Linked DNA regions of Homo sapiens: region 1 is linked to region 2. A link means that fine-mapping ties the variant in region 2 to the expression of a gene that starts in the linked region. Tissue or cell type: sigmoid colon. Region 2 holds a variant in brackets; the other region holds the start of a gene. All regions are shown on one strand. Distances are from middle to middle.

Region 1 (2,687 bases), 590 kb after region 2:
CATTTCATGGCCGAGTCAAATCAGCATGTGGAAATATATTTAACATCATTAGCCTTTGGGGAAATGCAAATTGAGATCATGAGAAATCACTGCACACTTATTTGAGCAGTTGAAATAAAAATATAATGATAAAACCAAATGCTAGCAAGGATGCAGAGAAACCAAATTTCTCATCCCTTGCTTGTGAGAATATAACATGATACACACAGCCACTCCCAAAAATAGATTGACAGTTTCTCAAAAAACATGCACTTACCATATTACTCAACAATCACATTCCTGGGCTTTTATCAGAGAAATTATAATTTAAGTTTGCACAAAAAGCTACACACAAATGCTCATAACTGCTCTATTCGTCATGTTTTTATTGGCAGGTAATTTACATACAAAGAAATTCAAAAATCTTAAATTTCACAATTCAATGTGTTTTGTCAAATGCCTGCACTCCTGTCCCTCCCCCACTGTAAGATTTACAACACTCTAGCACCCCCAAAAAGTTATTTCATGCCCCCTTCAGCTAACCTCTACCATGCCACTCCATCCATAAACCCCAAAGCAACTATTAAAAAAAAAAAAAAAAGGCAAAAACCGCAATTACTTTTGCACCAACCTAATACTAGTCTGATTTTTAAATCACAGATTCATTTTCATATAAATGGAATCATACAATGTTTATTCTTTCATACCTGACTTCTTTCATTCAGGAACACGATTCAGAGCTTCTGCTGTGCAGTAGGGGACATCAATAGTTCATTTTCTTTTTATTGTCTGCTAACATTCCATTGTATGGATTCAACCTAGTCTGTTTATTCATTCTTCTTACTGATGAAGTTTTTTTCTCACGGCTTAAGTCCAAGGTGTGTCTTTTTCGTCCAGCCAGGTGGCCCCGGCAGGTCGCTCCTCAGGGACCCACATGGGTCAGGGCGGTGCAGCAGTGACCCACAGGGGCCAGTGCAGTTGAAGTGGCTTTGAAACCTGATTGGAGAAACAGACTGCTCAGCTGTTAAGAACACACAGCGCTCCAGAAAACTGGTGTTCAACACAACGCGTCACTCCGGCTTCCACTGCTGCTGCGGAGAGTCAGGTTCTCCGGCAAGGCCCCGCGCGCCCGCCCCCGCGCGCCCGCTTCTCTGTCCAGGGAACGCCTTTCTGCGGGCGGAGGCGGCTACGAGGGGGCGCTGCGAAAGCGGATTTCCAGGCACGCCTGGCGCCACTAAGCGGCGCTGAGACGGCGCTGCCTCCTGACTGCCGGTTGGAGGCTACAGGGGCTCTGGGGCAAGGGCCGCTTTTAGGAGTTTGCTGGTCACGAGGGGGGACGCGACCTCGTCCAAGATCTGTCTGCAAGGGACCCTTCCCAGCCGATGTGAACACAGCCCGGGGAAAGGGGTCTTCCGGGGAGCAAAGGCAGCCCGGGAAGAGGAGTAGGGGCTGAAACCAAAGGCAGCCTGGGTACCCAGGTTTTCCCAGGGGACAAGTCCCCCAGTTAGCTGGGCACAGGGAGGCATGGAGAGCGGCAGCAACTGCGTTGGGATGGGGCGGCTGCCCCAGGTTGGGGCGGTGACCCATGTTCCACCAGGCCAGGCGCAGGGCTGAGGTGGCTGACTCCTGTTTCACAAGTGAAGACCTGGTCACCCCAGCAGCAAGGCATTCCGGAGTGGGAGAATTCCTGAGTCCTGGGGAGGAAGCCGTGGTTACAGGGCTGTGGCCCTGAGCAGGAGCTGGCTGGCCCAGCAGGGTGGGCCGAGCACTTCAGTCAAGGCTGAGCGCCAGGCACCAGGGACTCAGGTCTGAGAGACCTGATGTACATCCTGCTCCAGAGCAGATCACAGAGATGCGCCCGCATGAATCCCCAGGCTAAGCCCAGAATTCCGTGGAAGATGCCCATGGGCCAGGAACACGGGTAGTCACCGCGCTAGGGCATCACACAGGGCCCCCCTTGGCCAAATACCACGAGGGAACTTAGACACCTGCATGGGGCCATGGAAGTGCCTGCAACCTCACACTCAGGCCTAGGGCTTACCGAGGTATTGCAGATATTTGTGTTCTCAGAGTAGGAGCTTAGGAATCAGTATCTTCTCTTCGCTACAGGGACAGAGATGCAGTGGCCTAGGACACATCACAAATATTTAAAACGATGTCCTTGGTCAAGGACAGAGGTAGCCAAGGCCAGCCTTCTCCCAGGAAACTAACCCAGGACCCCAAAGCACAGAGCTGTTAGGTGGGAGGGAATTGGTCTGTATGTCTCCCTATAGTGTTGCAACACTTCGGCGCTGGGCTCCCTGTCCCAGACTCACCTTCTATACTCAAGCCAGAGGCCTACGAAAGCCGGGTTAAGATCTTCCCCTGCCTGTCCCTGTAAAGCTTCCCCACTGTCTCTGGAAATCATTTGAGCTTCTTAGCCCCACAGCATGAGCCCGCTCTGACTCAGGCCCTGACAAGCTCTTTCTCTTCTGTCTCTCCCTCCTCTGTTGATATGGACACACCATTCCTTTGGCATGTCTAGTACAGACCAGATCCCCTGCTGTTGTTAGCATTCCTCCCTCTCCCTGGAATGTTCTTCCTTATCTGTCTACCTGATAAGCACTGAGTCATCCTGCAAAACTCTGCACAGCTTTCACCTTCCCTGAGGAGCCTCCCCTGGCCAGCCCCACCCTGTTGCAGGCAGAATGCTTGGCGGTGGGTTGCTG
Region 2 (2,687 bases):
TAAAGGGATGGAGAAAGATCTATCATGCAAATGGAAAACAAAAGGAAAGCAGGGGTCACTATTCTTATATCAGATAAAACAGACTTTAAACCAACAATGATCTAAAAGGACAAAGTAGGGCATTACACAGTGACAAAGGGAAAAATTCAAAAAGAAGAGTTAACTATCTTAAATATACACACAGCTAACATTGGAGCACCCGGATTCATAAAACAAGTTCTTCTGGACCTATGAAAAGACTTAGTCACACAATAATATTGGGAGCCTTCAACACCCAACTGGCAGGATTAGAGAGATCATCAAAGCGAAAAATTAATTAATAAAGAAATTCTGGTCTTAAATTCAACACTTGACCAATTGGACTCAATAAATATCTACAGACTAGTCCACTCCAAAACCATAGGATATACAGTCTTCTTATCTGCACATGGAATATACTCTAAGATCGACTATATGCTCAGCCATAAAGCAAATCTGAAAAAGATTAAAAACACTGAAATCATCTCAAGCATACTCTCAGACCACAGTACAATAAAAACAGAAATTACTACCAAGAAGATCTCCCAAAACTACACAATTACTTGGAAATTAAACAACTTGCTCCTAAATGACTTTTGGGTAAACAAATGAATTCAGAAATCAAAAAAATTCTTTGAAATTAATGAAAACAGAGACAAAACAAATCAAAATCTTTGGGATGCAGCTAAAGCAGTGCTAAGAGTATAGTTTATAGTGCTAAATGCCTACATCAAAGAAGTTAGGAAGATCTTAAATGAACAACCTGATGTCTCACCTAGAGAAACTAGAAAAAAAGAACGAATCAATCCCAAACTAGCAGAAGAAAACAAATAACCAAAATCAGAGCAGAACTGAATGAAATTAAGATGGAAAAATGCATACGAAAGATCAACAAACAATTTTTTTTTTTTTGAGATGGAGTCTCGCTCTGTCTCCCAGGCTGGAGTGCAGTGACACAATCTCAGCTCACTGCAACCTCTGCCTCTTGGGTTCAAGCAATTCTCCTGTCTCAGCTTCCCAAGTAGCTGGGACTGCAGGTGCATGCCATCACACCTGGCTAATTTTTGTATTTTTAGTAGAGACGGGGTTTCGCCATATTGATCAGGCTGGTCTCGAACTCCTGACCTCAGGTGATCCACCCGCCTCGGC[C/T]TCCCAAAGTGCTGGGATCACAGGCATGAGCCACCGCGCCTGGTCTGTTTTTTGAAAGAATAAACAAAATTGATAGACTGCTAGCTAAACAACAAAAAAAGGAAAATCTAAGCCCAATCAGAAATGACAAAGATGACATTACAACTAATCCCACAGAAATATAAAAGATCTTCAGAGATTATTATAAATATCTATGCACACGAAAAATAGAAAATCTAGAGGAAATGAGTAAATTCCTGAAAACTCCCAAGATTCAACCAGGAAGAAATTCCTGTTCAAGAAAACCTGAACAGACCAATAATGAATTCCAAAAGTGAATCAGTAATAAAAATCCTACCAACCAAAAAAAGCCCTGGACCAGACGGATTCACAGCTAAAGTCTACCACATGTACAAAGAAGAACTGCTACCAATCCTACTGAAACCATTCCAAAAAATTCAAGGAGGAGGGACTCCTCTCTAACTCATTCTATGAAGCCATTATCAACTTGATACCAAAATCTGACAGAGACACAATGAAAAAAAAGTTCAAGCCAATATCCCCGATGAACATAGAGGCAAAAAAAAAAAAAAATCCTCAACAAAATACTAGCAAAACAAATGTAACAACACATCAAAAAGATAATGCACTATGACCAAGTGGGATTTATCCCCAGAATGCAAGTATAATTTGACATATGCAAATCAATAAATGTGATATATCAACAGAATGAATGACAAAAACCATATGAGAATCTTAATAGATGTGGAAGAAGCATTTGATAAAATTCAACATGCTTTCATGATAAAAAAAAAAAACTCTAAACAAATGAGGCATAGAAGGAACATATCTAAACACAATAAAGACGATATATGACAAACACACAGCTAAGATCATACTGAATGGGGAAAAGCTCAAAGCCTTTCTTCTAAGAACTGGAAAACAGGTCAAGAATGCCCACTTTTACCACTCTTATTCAGTATAATGTTGGATGTCCTAGCCATTGCAATTAGTCAAGAGAAAGAAATAAGGGGCATCCAAATTGGAAAAAAAGGAAATTAAATTGTCCTTCTTTGCATGTAACATGACTATATATTCATATATTCATATATATATGTATATATATATATATCCCCCAAAACTAATGACTCTACCAAAACACTCTAAGAACTAATAAACTAATTCAGTACAGTTGCAGGATACAAAGTCGACATACAAAAATCAGTGATATTTCTAGACTCCAATAACAAACTAGCTGAAAGGAAATAAAGAAGGTGATCTTATTTACAATAGCTATTAAAAAAAAAAAACACCTAGGATAAATTTAACCAAAAAAGTAAAAGACTTCTATGAGGAAAACTATAAAACACTGATGAAAGAAACGAAGAGGACAGAAACAAATGGAAATAATCCTATGCTAATGAATTGGAAAATGGAATACTATGCAGCCATAAAAAAAGAGTGACATCCTGTCATTCACAGCAATATGGACAAGTCTGGAGAACATTGCATTAAGCAAAACAAGGCAGGCACAGAAAGAT

The links. PIP is the estimated chance that this variant, and not a neighbour inherited with it, causes the effect.
Region 1: it holds the start of LINC00842, and the variant in region 2 is fine-mapped to the expression of LINC00842 in sigmoid colon (GTEx, PIP above 0.99).

Annotation. Positions count from the first base shown.
Region 1 is chr10:46,396,793-46,399,479 of GRCh38, reverse strand. LINC00842 (long intergenic non-protein coding RNA 842) reads right to left here and starts at 1,118. Exons shown (of 4, transcript NR_033957.2): 1 at 687-1,118. RefSeq lists an enhancer at 2,243-2,687.
Region 2 is chr10:46,988,616-46,991,302 of GRCh38, reverse strand. The region is part of intron 9 of PTPN20 (protein tyrosine phosphatase non-receptor type 20); the gene reads right to left. Among named protein-coding and RNA genes, the nearest start is that of PTPN20, 79 kb to the right of the region's middle. The variant C/T (reference allele first, on the strand shown) is at 1,168.